2 linked regions of the Homo sapiens genome follow. The protein of the gene in region 1 purifies or fractionates together with the protein of each later gene. This does not show direct contact. Each region holds a gene or a part of one and is shown on either strand. Other genes may lie near its edges.

What was found.
Region 2: the proteins of CTDSP2 (region 1) and MAP7D1 purify together in Homo sapiens (affinity purification with mass spectrometry; 3 studies listed by BioGRID and IntAct, with this or other methods). This does not show direct contact.

Annotation. Positions count from the first base shown.
Region 1 is NC_000012.12:57,836,339-57,844,252, forward strand, and holds part of CTDSP2 (carboxy-terminal domain RNA polymerase II polypeptide A small phosphatase 2), read right to left. Parts: intron 7,424-7,914; exon of another isoform or gene 5,921-7,423; intron 877-5,920; exon of another isoform or gene 753-876; intron 1-752. UniProt on the Homo sapiens protein: Preferentially catalyzes the dephosphorylation of 'Ser-5' within the tandem 7 residue repeats in the C-terminal domain (CTD) of the largest RNA polymerase II subunit POLR2A.
Region 2 is NC_000001.11:36,172,806-36,180,719, reverse strand, and holds part of MAP7D1 (MAP7 domain-containing protein 1), read right to left. Parts: intron 7,357-7,914; coding exon 7,242-7,356; intron 5,823-7,241; coding exon 5,712-5,822; intron 4,522-5,711; coding exon 4,139-4,521; intron 4,024-4,138; coding exon 3,878-4,023; intron 2,848-3,877; coding exon 2,519-2,847; intron 2,302-2,518; coding exon 2,124-2,301; intron 2,036-2,123; coding exon 1,897-2,035; intron 1,800-1,896; coding exon 1,695-1,799; intron 1,459-1,694; coding exon 1,405-1,458; intron 1,209-1,404; coding exon of another isoform or gene 1,206-1,208; coding exon 1,163-1,205; intron 1,055-1,162; coding exon 964-1,054; intron 847-963; coding exon 653-846; intron 473-652; coding exon 462-472; 3' UTR 1-461. UniProt on the Homo sapiens protein: Microtubule-stabilizing protein involved in the control of cell motility and neurite outgrowth. Facilitate microtubule stabilization through the maintenance of acetylated stable microtubules.

The DNA.
Region 1 (7,914 bases):
AGAAGTACCAGGTAAGGACACTATTTGCCCCTATGCATGGGCCGGGGTAGGTGGCTCAAGCCTGTAATCCCAGCACTTTGGGAAGCTGGGCCGGTTGGATCACTGCAGCTCAGGAGTTCAAGACCAGCCTGAGCAACATGGCAAAATCCTGTTCTACCAAAAAAAAATTAGCCAGGTGCACCTGCAGTCCCAGCTTGGCAGGCTGAAGTGGGAGAATCACCGGAGCCCAGGAGTTTGAGGCTGCGGTAAGCCGTGATTGCACCACTGCACTCCAGCCTGGGTGACAGAGTGAGATTTTGTCTTTAAAAAAAAAAAGTGTACATGTACAAACACGTGAACACGTGCACACATACACACAAACGAAGACCAGAGTGACCAGGGCAACACTGTTTTTAATCTTCTCCTGAAAGTCAGGTCCAGATACCACTTTTGTCAACAACACAGCTTTGTGTCCCAGCAAAGGAACTCCTCACACATCTGCCTGCGATTCAGCAGAAGGTAACCTCTGAGACAATCAGATTTTAACAAGCCCATTCAGGTAGAAAGTTGCTTTCTTTTTTGGTTCATCCCCAGAAGTACTTCCTTCCCCACCACCTCCCATCCCCCACAGCAAAGGACTTAGCCTTAGCCTGGCTATCACTATAAAATGGCCCCTCTGAGGGGCCTCCTTCCTCTCAGCTATTGGAGGAAGGAGAGTATTTGGAGCATTTCCGGCCCTTCTTGGACGGCTGCCTGAACCCTGCAGCCAAGACACATTTGACTGGGACTCCCCCATGGAGAGAAGTCCTCCCAGGTCCTCTGCAAGGGGCATCTGTTCCTTGGCTATGGACATGCCCTAAAGTGCCAGGTGGACGGAAGAGCTCCTGGGACCAGCAGGTGAGTCGGCAGGGAACAAAAGAGGGTGAGATGCCTAGACAGCCCCCACACACAAAAGACTGCAAACAATGGGGAGGGTGTACTGCTTTCATGCCTGGCCACTGACACTGTTCTCTACAGCTAACAAGCAAGGCAGGGCCGGACCCAGCTTAGCACCGGCTCCCGAAGTTCCAAAAAGTAGCTGTGTATCTAACTGCATGGGCATTTTTTGAAAAAAGCAGTTTTAACACTTTGGGGGGCAAAGGCAGTGGGGATCACTTAAGGTCAGAAGTTCGAGACCAGCATGACCAATATGGTGAAACCCCATCTTTACTAAAAATGCAAAAATTAGCAGGGTATGGTAGTGAGCTCCTGTAATCCCAGCTACTCCGGAGGCTGAGGCACGAGAATCACTTGAATCCAAGAGGTGGAGGTTGCAGTGAGCCGAGATCACACCATTGCACTCCAGCCTGGGGGACAGAGCAAAACTCTGTCTCAAAATAAATAAATAAATAAATAAAATTTAAAAAATTAAAAAGCAGTTTTAGCCATGCTGTTTGGCCCATACCAGCATGTTGTATGCTGGTGCCCTCTCTGCACCAGCAACTGGGGCAGCTCTACCTAAGCCAGTGTCTCCATTAGTTCCCTTTCCCTGGGCAGGAGAGCTCCCTATATGGCTGTCTCTTCTTTCAGACCTGAGTCCTTAATGCCACCTGTGGGGCGAGGGTCACAGGTCACACACTTTCTTGTCTCTGCCCCTTCAGCAATCTGTTCTCTGACCTCAGCTAGAGAGGTAAGAGGACTCAGTTTTGGGAGCAGGGGATTTCTGGCAGTTCTAAAGCACGCTGATTTCAGAATCAGCCTCTAAAGGAGGTATTGCCAAAACACCCTCCTGGGCAGCTCCAACGTACTTTAAAAACGTGCTGGGTTGGGGTGGGCCTCCATAAGTAGCAGATCCTGGACCAGAGACAGAGGAGGCGTTTCCTCATAGACAAGTCAGCTGCAGGCTCAGCCCTGCAAGCCCCACTCCAGAGGACTCTTGAGGGATGTCAGGAAGTGATCTAATAGCCCACAGGGCAGCAGGGACAAGCCTGAGATGCCATCCAAGAAAACTCAAAGGACTGGATCCTGCCCCTGCCTCAGCAGGAGACCCTGCCCTATGTAGCACCAGCCAGAGCAAAGGTATCATTGTGAGGGATTGGAAACCACACTTGCCTACCTGGAGTTACCCCTCCTTCCCCCTAAGGAGGTGTATAACAAGCCCCTGTGGGAGGGGCTACACACAGACAACCTCTCAGTGAGTGTTTCAAGTTCCTGCCTTAGTGCTGTGCCCTTGACTCCTGGAATGCTTAGATATAGTTGAAGCCTAGGAAGAATCCACTGCTTCTTTCCCTTCCAGGTATGTAGGCCTGCTTTAGGTTGATACAAACGTGAGCTGGAGAAAGCAGTGAGGACACAGGACAAAGCAAGGGTATCTGTTCTGACCAGGGAAAAATACAGTGGTGACACAAGGCACCCAGACTTGAGTTCGAATCTAGGCTCTGCCATGTGTAAGGTATGCAGCCATGGGCCTCAGTTTCTTCATCTGCAAAATGGGAAGACTACCTATTTCTCAGTGTCAGAATTGCAGGGAGCTCAGGGAGTGTCCTGGTCCTAACAAAAGCTTTGTAAGTGTCAACTGCTACTCATTAAGTGCAAAGTACTTTCATACTCTTACCTCAGTCTCCATCTCAAAATGTTCACATTAAAGGGACCATAGAGATTTCTTCTAACTCATTTCAGAGGTAGTAACAGGGCCAAACCGGAAATGATGTTTTCCGGGACTCCACAAAAACGAATCAGTCGCACACACACATACACACTCATTGAGGCTGGCCAACCAGTTCCTCCTTCATATGGCTGGCCTCTGCAGAAGGAATGGAAGGAGTCTGCCAGGGAGGCACCCATCTCCAGGGACATTCTGCTGCTCCCCCCACACCCCTCAGCTTCACCTATGACCAGCCAAGCCGTATAGGTGAGTCCACTTGAGAAAGTACTGATCTAGAAGTCAGGAAACCCAGCTCTTGCTCCAGTTCAGCTTTTCAACAGTTCCGTGGCCTTGCTAGGGCACAATTCTCTGGGGTTCAGTTTCCTCATAAGCCAATCTGGAAAGGTTTCCCCTGCATGGTCCCTTAAAAGGTGGCTTCACCTGAAGCATGCACCTGAATCATGAACTCAAAAGCACTCTAAAAGGTGAAATGTTAGGCCGGGCACGGTGGCTCAAGCCTGTAATCCCAGCACTTTGGGAGGCCAAGGCGGGCGGATCATGAGGTCAGGAGATCAAGACCATCCTGGCTAACACAGTGAAACCGCGTCTCTACTAAAAATACAAAAAATTAGCCGGGCGTGGTGGCGGGCGCCTGTAGTCCCAGCTACTCAGGAGGCTGAGCCAGGAGAATGGCATAGACCCAGGAGGTGGAGCTTGCAGTGAGCTGAGATCGAGATCGCGCCACTGCACTCCAGCCTGGGCGACAGAGCAAGACTCCATCTCAAAAAAAAAAGTGAAATGCCAGACAATGCAAATGTCTGGCTGACACTAGCCATGTACCCTTGGGCAAAGTCCTTCCCTCTCCCTGTGAAAGTTTTCCTTATCTGTAAAGTGAGGTTAATTCCTCTTATTGGAAAGGAAAAGTTGTCAGGAGAACTAAGTGAGATACGAGATATAAAATGCTAGGAATAGTACCTTGCCTATGGCAAGTACTCTATAAATATTGGCTGTAACCATTACTGGGTAAACAAGGATGGATCATTACTCTGTCCATTTACTCTGAAAACTTTAGGACTCCCCTTGAAGAGCCACAGATCTTTAACATACAGTAAAACGGGACCACCAAGAGGAATTTTCCTGCTCGGGGCAAAACAGGCAGTTGGGGCCACTGCTGTGCCTACCTGGCTCTTCTCCAGGGGCACCTGTCAGAGCCACAAGGAGCATTTGGAACACATGCATGCCTGACCCACCTGCCCATGCGCTGATTCAGCAGATCCCAGGTGGGGGGTCTGTATTTTTAGCAAGTGTCACAGGAGACTCTGATGTGTGTCCCTGGCTGAGAGCCAGTATCTACCGGTTGCCAGGGTCTCTGACTAACCCAGGGCTAGAAGGCAATTCAGCCAAAGTCCCCTTGGCCCCTCTCCCCACCGTACCTGACTGGCTCAGTGTTTCTGCAAGCCTTAGAGGACTCATGCCTAGGATCCAGTTTTCTTCTCTAGGGGTAGTTCTATGTGACGTGAGTCAGAAAACCTGGGTCTGCTGTCTCTACCTGCAGGCCCCTGTTCCTGTGAAAGAGGGGTCCTAGCTCTATTCTGCTGCGGGAACAGAAAAGCTGGGATCTACTATCCAGGAAGCCTTCCGCAGGCAATTTGAGCCTTTCCATGAGTCTGCTTGGCTCTCACTGGGATTGGGGCCATATTTGTTCCCTGGGAACAATGCAGATGGGAAAGTGCAAATTCAAGAGGATGGAAAAAGCTGTGGCAAGAAATAAAAGAAGGTATAGAATAAAAAGAGAGTAAGAGCAAAGTCTGATTTGGGGGGATGGGGGTGGGGGAAGGACTAGAGCACCTAGGAGGGAAATGGAAATGTCAGATCCACTCAGAGATCAGGTTCAAGGCTAACTCCTAGAATAGCTAACATAAAACAGGGCATACACACTTTTGCCTAGAGGGAGGCTGTGGCGCTCACTGGAGTACCCTGTGATAACAGATCCTGGTGCAGGCATACTCAGACCTGAAGGGCTGGGCATTTTGCCAGACAAAGAAACTCCATTCTATTTGGTCTCTGGTCCAGAGATGCTTCCAGTTTTAAGTCGTCAACTTATCCACTTTAATTTCTAGTACTTTCTTTGTAAGATTTGCGTGTTAATGTGCTCATCTGCATCCCAGTTCAGAACTACTACTCCATTTCAGAAAAGTGAGGGAAATATGTCAGGGCCACACCCAATCCCACGTCCCAAAGACAAGCGAGTTAATTCCATGCTTCCCAGAGCTGGCCAGACTAAGACAAGATGAAAAGCAGATCAATGCTGCTTTTGTACTTTCTCAATGTTGTACCCCAAAACCACAGGAGCAAACAAATAGCTTAAGAACATCTATTTCTCTTCAAACCCCATTTTCTTTTTCCCCCTCTTATTAAAATTACCTAAAAGAAACCTCAATCTCTCTGAATTCATTAACTCTCAAAGCAGACAGTGAGAGAATGTAGCATACAGTTGTCCTGAATATTCGTTATATCCATATTTGAGAACCTCTAAGGAAGTTTAGACTTTAGAGACTCACAGGGGGCACATGCCTGGCCTTCTCCCACCCCCAGATGCCCAGGCACCAGACAGAATGGCCAAAGTCCCACAGCCCAGGCAGATAACAAATCACATCCCAAGTCACATGACACAAAGAAGGGGTCTGTGCAGCAAGGCTGTTTGTAAGCCTAAGAGGTTGATCCTTCCAGAAGGCCCAAGCCCCCACAATCAGTGTCCCCTCTGACCCCCGGCCACCTGTCTTGAAAAATAAAACCCACAAGACTACGTGCTGTTTACACTGTGTCCTTGGGGGAATGGAGGAGGGCGAACAGAGTAGTCTAACTATGTAAAGAGGGAGGACATTAATATTTATCAAGCACCTACTAAGTACCAAGTATAATAGAAGGGTAGATATCATTATTACTACTTTATAGATAAGTTACTCAGAATACTAAAGTGATTTATCAAGTCTCATTGCAAATAGGAAAAGAAGGTATTTGAACCCAGGCCTGAAGCAATTTTGCTTCAGAAACAATGCTTTGAAGTAACAATGTAAACTTTAACCACCATCCCTGACCCTGGTCCCCACTCTGTCCAATCTAAGAACCAAACTTACCATGATGGGAATAAAAGACAATACCCCAAATTACCCAAAAGCTAGCAGAAAAAAAAAATTGTAGGAGGAATTGGAAGGGAAGCTATGTATTGATATGTACACACATACACACAATCCCATATATATTTACATATTGTCTTTCTTTTCCATGCTTATTTACAAACACTTTAATTCTTCACAGGTTGGGAGCATCAATTCACGTTGGCTAGAAATGTGACTTCTTTAGTATTTACCATTTTAACAAAATCCATGATAAGGGATTTGGAAGGTCCCATGGAAAGGATGAAATGACACCTCTCTGCTACCCAGTTTCTTTAAGACCTCTACGGTTGAGAAGAGAGGACAAAGGAACACCCCCACCTCTGCCATCCTCCGAGGGATTTTTCACAGCAATTCCAGTGCTGCTCAGTGGAAAGCTCTGCAAGTCAACTGCAAACCCCCAGCCCCAGATGTTAGGCATTTACAAACTTTGTTGCTGATTTATCAGCGCTCCTCTGCAATTTTGGGGACAGGAGCAAACACAAGCTTAAGTCACCACGCAGGCTGCAACCCTTACCCAAAGATGGGGGAAAAACTCCAAAGGAGATGCAGGAGGGAGCCTCAGCAGTCACTGTGAGAGCACAAAGAGGCCAAGACCCAGGGTAGGCAAAGGAAGGTGAGAGGCACCAGCAGGGCAGGAGGAGGAGCCAGCTATAAACATGCAGGCTTCCCGCCCCCTGCATAGCAAGCTATGGAAGGAAGCTCCAGCAAGATTCATGTCTAAGCTTTTCAAGTTAAAGGCTTGCCTACATCTACAGTGAACGGTGTCTGAACAACTTTTTGAGGGAATAAGGCAGAATTTCTCCCTTATGCGGATAACAAAAGAGCTAGCCATCCTGAAAACTTGCCACATCGTAATTTTCAGAGATGGTCAGTCTCTCAGAAGAATCCTTGCAATTAGCTATCAGAACCTGTCCAGTTCGGCATGTGAGAAGGTAATCCAGGGCATCATCGAGAGGAAGGGGCATCAGGATTCATGGACAACAAAAAAATCTCTGATTCCTCCAAAAGGCGTGTGGGTCACTGAGCTCCGGAAGAGGCTGCCTCCACCAGGTCTCATTTCACGTTGGGAGGTTACAGCGTGGGTCTTGTTTCCTTGGCTTTCCCCCATCTAATCCCAAAGCCAAGGTCACAACCTCTTAGCAATGGGGTGACAATCTCATATAGAGCTGCAATCAACAGCCATTCTTGCCAAGCTGATATTAACATTTCTTTTTTCTTTTTGATGTTACACACAATCCTGTCCTTGCTGTACCAGAAAGCCATTTCACCCATCTGTCTGGGAAGATGATCCAATTTTGGTGCTTTTATCATCAATGCTTTCAGCAACTTTGTTCTACTTCCCCTACTGTAATTACTTTTGAATCATCAACGCACCCAGACAGCCTTAAACCTCAGAGAACAGAATGCTAAAAAAAGAAAAAAAAAACCCGCAATGGCAAGTAACTTCACTAAATAGCCACCCAAGCTAGGAGCAATTTGTTTCTTTCCAGAAATTTACTTATTAATAATAAGTACCTCACACTCCTTCTTCCCCTTTTTCCAAAGGCAGGCAAGGCATGGAGATGGGATGTTGTGGAGAGGACGGAGTGGGGAGAAGAAGGAACTCCAAAAGGAGCCAATTAAAACATCTGCTTCCCCAGTCCCCCAGCTTTTGTTTTTTGTTTTGTTTTGAAGACGTAGGTTTTGTTTGTAAATGATGTGGGACTCAGAAAGTTGGTTTAGTGGTTGCTGGGTGCCTAAGCAGCCCAGGAAGAAAGTCTGTCTTCTCTGGAATGCAATCAAATTACATGGGGAGGGGCCGGGCGCGGTGGCTCACGCCTGTAATCCCAGCACTTTGGGAGGCCGAAGGGGGCTGATCACCTCAGGAGTCGAGACCAGCCTGGGCAACTGGCGAAACCCCTGTCTCTACTAAAAAATACAAAAAAATTAGCCAAGCGTGATGGCGCGCGCCTGTAATCCCAGCTACTTGGGAGGCTGAGGCAGGAGAATTGCTTGAATTTAGGAGGCGGAGGTTGCAGTGAGCTGAGATTGCGCCACTGCACTCTAGCCTGGGCAACAGAGTAAGACTCCATCTCAATTAAAATAAAAAATTACATGGGGAGGGAGAGACCCAGTGGCTGCTGGCTTAAACCA
Region 2 (7,914 bases), on another chromosome or scaffold:
AGACCTGGGATCCCCCTCAGTTACAGTTAAATAGAGAGAGGAAGATCTCCCCAGGGGGCTTTGGGGGGAGGGTCTGCCTCCTGCACCCACCCTCTCCACGCAGAGGAGTCTGAGCACAAGCTATTTACAGTATTCACATCCACTGTACCCCACCAAATCAAGGCAAATACTACAGGTGGCCCCTCCCCAAGGGAAGAGGCCAGAGAGGCTGTGAGTGTATATGTGTGTATGGGGGAGAAGGGATGTCTGCGCGTGCGAGCACACGAATGCACTGAGGGGCAGATCTGGCTCCGGCCAAAGAGACATCAGTCTATAAGGTGCAGATTAAAAACAACAGAGAGGACCCACCCCCAGGGGCCCAGGCCACTTCCATCTTTGTTCTGTCTTTTTCTCCTCCAGACATCCTGGTAGGTGATGCAGAGGAGCCCTCACAACTGTGCCCGGATCCAAGGCAAACCCTCTTAAAGGACTTCTGGGGAAAAACAGGAAGGGAAACAGTCAGGGCAAACAGCACTCAAGCCCAGATAGCTGGGGGTCTTCAGGGTGGAGCAGGAGAGGGTGCCTGGCAGAGCCAGAAGAGAAGGCAGGGCTGAGGAGTACAGGGAAGGCTGCTGGGAGGAATGGAGCTGGGTCCAGGAATCAGGAGATCTACCTGTGACCTGCGGGGACTGCACCACAGCTTTCTTGAGGAAGGCTTCTGCCTCTGCAAAGGGCAGGAGTGTCTCTGGTGTTCGGCTCAGACTCTTGTCCCCAGAGGGTCCGTTGGTGGAGAAGCCATTCTCCTGGTGTGCTGGGAGAGGCTGCAGGCCATTCACCAGGGACGCTGGCAACTCCTTGCTTGGGAGACTGTGGATGCAGAGGCCAAGGCTCAGCACCTCACCTCCCAGGAAAGCCCAGGCCACCCCGCAGCTCCAGCTGCAGTCTGCCTCCCTGCTCAGGGACCCTGGGATTGGAAGCTGGTACCTCCACTGAGGCTCCTGTGGGATGGGCTCCTCTTTCTGCACAGCCTCCTTCTGCAGCCCTGGGGACCGAGCCTCCACAGCTTTCACAGGCTCTGTCACAGGGAAAGAGGGGCCATCAGCCAGGGGCTGGCAAGAGAGGTGAGGATGGAGGAGGAGGAGGATGGCAAAGGGAAGGGAGGCGAGAGGAATGGGGGCTTTACCTGGGCTGGAACCGTTGGCGTTGGCCTCCTTGCTGTCCTGCTTCTGCTTTGAAGAGGAAGAGCAGTCAGGCTCAAGGGACAGCCGGCCCCAGCCACTTCGGACTGAGTTCGGCCCTCCCCTTGCCCGGGCCGCAGCGGCCTCCCTGACAGCCTCGCTCTCCGTGGCCATGGATGCCTTTCCGCAGCCTCCTTTTCACACCCTGCCCCCCACGCCCAGCACTGCCCTTCGGGGGAATTCTGACCTTGGTTTCAGAAACTTCTGACTTCCGAGTCCTCTTCATGATCTCCTCCAGACGCTGTTTGGAGGCCGCAGATCAGTTAGGCTCGAGCCCCGCCCCTAATCCTAAACCTCCCACCAGCCAGACCCGGCCTCGGAGTCTTAGGGCCTCCCAGCTCATAGCAGCCCTCTCCAGGACAGGAACTGGAATTTGCCCCAGCGCTTTCCCGTCCTGTCCGCTCTAAGCCCAGGCCCCGCCCACCTGGCCCGCCCTGCCCAGGCCCCGCCCACAAATCCCCGCCCAGGTCCGCACACCTTTCTGCGCTCTTGCCGCTCTTGCTCCTGCTGCTGGAAGTGCTTTTCCCGCTCCAGACGCTGCCGCTCCGCCTCTTCCCGCGACCGAGCTTCGGCCTCCTCTTTCTGCCAAAGACCCCCATGAGCGTGGGGCACTTGACTCCAGCCTTCCCTCCCGGCCCGCGGCGCCCGCGCCCAGCCGCTTCCCGCCCGCCGGGGGCACCTGCTTCTGCAGCCGCTCCTGCTCCTCCTGCTCGGCCTGCGCCTTCTCTCGTGCCTCCTGCTCCTCCCGCCTCCGGGCCTCCGCCTCCCGCTCCGCCCGGGCCTCGGCCTCCCGTGCCAGCTGCTCCTCTCGCATTCGCCTGGGGGACGGAGCAAACGGCTCAGGCTCGGCCTCTGCTTCTTCTCCAGCGCCCACGAGGGCCCCCTCAGTCCCCGAGGCGCACTCACTTGTCCCTTTCTGCCTGCAGCCTCCGCTCCTGCTCCTCGCGCTCCCGCTGCTCCCGGGCCTGGCGCCGCTTCTCAGCCAAGAGCCGAGTGGCTTCTTCTCGGTCTGTGGTGCCGGCCATTGGTTTGCTAGGGGTCACCGGGGGAGCAGGGGCTGGGGGTGAGGTCAAGACAGCAGCGTCTGGAGGGGGATCCGGGATCAGGCGTCAGCACACCCACGCAGACACCGCCGTCATCTCCCAGCGGCCTGTGTTCTGGGCCTGGGACTGCTGAGGGCAGGAGTCTCCTCTTTCCATGTCCCACTCCCAGTCCTCAGGCATCTCTGGCGGCCCACACCCCCACACAGGAGAAGCTGGCTTCTCTCGCTCGGCCCACCCCTCCCCTCTCTTCATTCCTACCTGTAGGGGTCTCCGCGGGGGGCTGCTCCTTCTGGGGCGGGGCTGGGGTGGGCGAGGGCGCCGGCGAAGGTGCCGGTGAGGCTGGGGCTGCTGACTCCTTCTCGTTACTGGCCCTGCGCTTGCTCTGGCTCTTGTCCTCGGGCCCTGCGGCGCTGGGGCTCTCCTTTGCCTCCTCCTTCCTCCGAACCCGCCCCTTGGGGGATGCAGTGGTGCCTCGGGGGGACGGTGGCTTTGGAGGCAGAGTGTGGCCTGGCCCTGGGCTGGGGCAGGGGGAGGCAGGCCTGTGCCAGGATGTGGAGGGAGAGGATGGCCTGGCCTTGGATTTGGGGCTAAGAGAAAAGGGAAAAGGGAAGGGTTAGGAGACACACACACCCACACGCTGAGAACTTGTTCCTTCCTCTGGGAGGTGCCCCCTCCCCCAGGCTACATCAGCGCCGCCCCCCGCCCCCTTGCTCTCACAGAAACACACCATTCCCTTTTAGAGCATACACCCCAGTTTGTAATGACATGTTTCTGTGGGATTCTTTGATTATTGTATGTCCCCCGCCAATAGCCTGTAAGCTTAATAAGAGAAAAAACCATGCTTGGGTTAGCTCAGCAACGTGTCCTCAGCACCCTGAGTGCTACCTGACAGGTCCATTCATTCAGCAGGTTTTGTTGTTGTTGTTGTTGTTGTTTTTAAGACAGAATCTGGCTGACCCCCAGGCTGGAGTGCAGTGGCATCATCATACATAGCTCACTACAGCCTCGACCTCCTGGGCTCAAGCAATCCTCCCCTTGGCCTCCCAAAGTGCTGGGATTACGGGCGTGAGGCACTACCCTGGCCCTTCAGTAGGTATTCACTGAGTGGTTACCAGGTGCCAGGCACTATTTTAGGTGTTGGGGTACTTCAGTAACCAAAACACTTAAAAAAACAAAAACAAAAACGAACAAAAAGAAAAATGGAGGCTGGGCGGGGTGGCTTACACTCACACATGTAATCCCAGCACTTTGGGAGGCCAAGGCGGGTGGATCACCTAAGCTCAAGAGTTCAAGATCAGCCTGGACAACGTAGCGAAACCCCCACTCTACCAAAAATACAAAAAATTAGCCGAGCGTGGTGGCGCGCCTGTAGCCCCAGCCACTTGGAAGGCTGAGGTGGGAGGATAGCCTGAGCCTGGGAGGTCAAGGCTGCAGTGAGCCGAGATTGTGCCACTGCACTCCAGCCTGGGTGACAGAGGGAGATCCTGTCTCAAACAAAACAGAGAGAATCTGCCCTCAGGGAAGTTGCATTCTAGAGGTGGTTGCCCAACAAATATTTGTGGGTGATGAATAAATGACCCGGTGAGGGGCAGGGTCCCTCGCACCGCCCGCGCCCACCTGAGCTCAGAGGCGGTGCTGGCAGAGAGGCGGGCACGTGGGGAGGCGGGCAGCGACTGGCGCTTCTTGAGGCTGCGCTCCCGGGCTAGGGCACTCTTCTCCTTCTCGTTTTCCCGCTCCTTGTCCTTCTTCTCCTTTTTCTGCACCTGGCAGGGAAGGAGGAACGGAAGAGGAGAGTAGAGGTCAGCAGCGCCCGCGTACCCCAGTTCCAGGCTGCCTGTCCCCACCTGCGCGGCCACTCGAGCCAGTAGAGCCACTCACCGGCGAGGCCTCCGGCCGGCGGCGCACCGGAGCGGGGCTGCCCCCGGCGTTGGGCTTGCGGCGCTCCCCGCGCTCACCGGCGGGGGCGCAGCGGTGCACGCTTCGGGTGACGCTGCACGGCGTCAGGGGGCTGGCGGAGGCCGAGCGCGGGCACACCGGCACGGCTGCAGAGGGATGAGTGCGGTCGGGTTGCGGCCCGCGCGCCAGGCTGGCCCCTGCCCGGCCCCACGTGGGGCCTCTCCCAGGGTCGCAGCCCCTACCCTGGTCCCGGCCGTTGCGGGGCAGTGTGACCGCGCTGCGACTCCGAGCAAGGAAGGAGAGAGTGGGCGTCATCAGACGATCCACGATGCTGCTCTCCCATGCGCTCAGCTGCAGGCTGCGATCTGGGGGTAGAAGGCCAGGCGAAGCCGGTCACCGTGGGGGCCGTAGGAGGCAGGAAGAGGCAAGGGAGCAGACCAGGCACCATCCCCATGCCAAGGCCAAGGCTTCTCACCCGGGAGTCCTCTCCCCACAATCACACCGGGGCCACACTTGTCCTCCCTATGATCTGGACTTCCACTACAGACCCAGGCAACCAGACACTTCCCAGGGCAACATCCTGCATCGGATGAGGGTCCCCGCCTACAACGCTCCCCAGGTGAAGGGGCCCTGAACGGCGCATATAGGAAGGAGCCATCCAGGATTGGAAGAAAACCCAATTGCCCTCTGCCATGTCCCAGTGTAAGGTCTTGCCCCTCCTGCTGTCAGAGGGCTGACCCAGCCGAGGCTGTCCCATGGATTCAGGACAGTGAGGGTCCTTGTGCTCCTCTGACCCAGCTTTTAGCAGTCCTGTGCCAGGGAGAGGCTGCTAGGGTGCCTGCCTGCCCTAGGCCACCCTGCTCTGTCCCCTCAGCTGCTGGGCTATTTTTAAGCCTCAGTCAGGTGGGGTTGGTACAGCAGCTGATTTGGTTGCTAGGCAACAAAGCAGCCAAACAAATGCAAGAGAAACTTATAAATAACTCCCACCATGGCTCCTTCACATATGAGCACCAGGGCATGGTGGGAATGCAGGGGCTATGCCACCTTGGTTGGCTCAACTCTGGGACCAGCCAAGGCCATGACTGGGGCTCTGAAGACAGAGAGGGCAGGATTGCATGGGCCCTCTAGGGTGGAGCCAGAATGAGGGACCCCTCCACCCCACAGCACCCAGGCCAGTCTGACACATGGGGACAATGCCACCTGGCTAAGGTTGGCCCAGACCAGCTGGCTGTGGTTGCAGAAAAGGCTGCCTGCCTGTCCCCACCCCCAGCCACCACCTCCAACTTGCTCTTGAGGCTCCTGCCAGGCTTCCTGCCCTCTGCGGCATTGTGCTTTGTCTCTGTTCTCCTCTCCTACAGGGCAACCTCTGTCCTCAGGGTCCAGACCCATATGCCGGCTCCCCCGAGGGGCACAGAGCCCTGGGTAAGGTAGAGTGGGGATGGGGACCTGGAGTATGTGAGGGCTCCAGGGACCTGGTGTTCTTGCTGAGCTCTGGAGGAGGCTTGGTGGGAGCTACAAGGGGCTCTGGAGGGGGAAGGGCTGGGCCTTCTCTTACTTCTACTGGGGGAGTTCCAGAGCGTGGCAGAGGACTTTGAGAGCCGCTTGTTGATTATAGAGTCCACGTGTTTGGGCAGGTTAACTGCCGACACGGAGCACCTGCTCCCACCTGGAGGGGGAAAAGACACGGCATTAGGGCCGGGCCCGGCAGGAGCCAGTGGGGGGCACCGAGGCCTTCCATGCAGGATGCTCCGAGGGCGGGGTGGGAGAGGGAGGAGTGGGCAGGCTAGGATGAGGAGCAGGAGGCAGCCTTGGCCCTGGGAGAGGGAGGGTGGGGGGGTAGGTGACCAGAGACAACCTGGGTTGGGGGAGCCGACGGAGAAGGAACAAAGGGAGGAGATGAGTAAAACTAGAGAAACTACAGCTTTCCTGGCCAGACCAAGGAAGCCATTCCTTACGGCTGAGTACTGCAACCCCTCCCCATAACCACCCAGCATTAGCACTTGCTGACACTGCCCAGCCAAGACGTTTGGATACAACACCCCCGTACTGGGATAAATGCAAAAACCCTCCTAAACAGGACCTACACAGTCACAGTCACTTGCACAAATCCACGTGTTCATCCAGAATCACAAAAAGACATGCAGACACAGGCATATAGAGTGGCAGATACTTCGGCATGCACACATGTGTGCAGACATGCACAGGGACAGAGACACAAACACTAACAGATAGTGTGTCAGACCCAGATGCACACAAGCCACAAACAGATCGAAGCAACCTCATCATGACATTTGTAGCAGCTCACATTTGTTGATGCTTACCATGTGCCAGGTACTGTGTGGGGCACCACACACATGTGACCTCATTTGATCCTTCAAACATCTATCTACCACCTCAGGGGCAAGTAGTATCACTATCCCCAGTTTATAGATGAAGAAAGTGAGACTTCGAGAAGTTAAAGGTTACGCTGCAAGTGCCAGAGCTGGAACCCAAGTCTGTCTGACTTAGGAGCCCTCACTGAGGTACACAAGGTCACAAACACGCCAAGGCAAACACATATTAAGACACACAATGCACGGGTCCAGGAGCACATAAACAGAAGATACACAGCTAGAAATACTGAAACTTGCCATTGCATAAAGACATCCAAGCACAGTGGTACATACATGCCAGCAAAGAATCAGACCAAAATCCATGGTGGCCCTACGCGGAGAAAACTCAGAGACAAAAATCTACCTTCCGAGACAAGGAGTGACAGTTTCTTTAAGATCCAGTGTCTGTAGGTCATTAAAGTCTTTTATGTATCAACAACTAATAATAATTGACAGGCGCAAAGAAGGCTAATCCTAAAATGACAGAGGTTTGAAGAGCAAACCAAATGGAGAGAATCCATCTCTGATTTGATAGTGGAAGTCCTTGGGAAGGGACAGTTTGGCTTACAGACCATTCTAGAAGACACAAGTCACATAAAGCAAGGCACACCTGCTGCAGGGAGCCACCAGCTTTTTGTAGGGAAGTTGTTCCCTTCCCTTACTTGCCATCCCAGCCTTGCCCACCCACTCCCCAGCCCCTCCAGCCTACTCACTGGTCTTATGTCCTGGAGAGCTGTGGTGCAGGGCCCCTGCCCAGGACCAGCGCTGCTGCCGGATTTCGGCCCACGTCTTCTTCACTGACCGTTGGATGGCTGCTTCATAGCGCTCCTGGGGGAAGGTGGGGAGAAGAGAGAGATGTGGACTCAGAACATTCATCGAATTTGGGATAGAGGCCCTTCTTCCTCCTGTGACAATGCCTCCCCCACTCCCTTCCCTTGGAGTCTTTTCCTGACTCATTGCAGGTAACCAAGGTTACCAAATCCTTGCTATGATTAAGGACCAAGATCCCTTTCAACTTGTTCTTGGGGAGCTTTTCACTGTTCCTGAGTCATTTCCTGAGTGCATGAGTTGATTCTCTGAGGATTGGGTGGACTCCCCCTACCTGGGGCTCCCAGGCAAGGCCACATCTCAGGCACTGAGGGTCCTGACCTTGGGGCTATGTGTTCCCTCTAGCCTGAGGCCCTCCCAGGTAGGGCCAGGTGGCCATTTCCTTCATTTCCTCACCAGCACTCAAGCTAGGGCTTTACCCATGTCACAGAGCTAGGCACGCTCACACAGATGCATACCTGCATACATACAGACACATGGGGTACATGTACGAACACAGGTACTGACAGTAAACAGTTACAGGGGCCTACAGTGGCACATTCAGAAGCAAATGTGCCT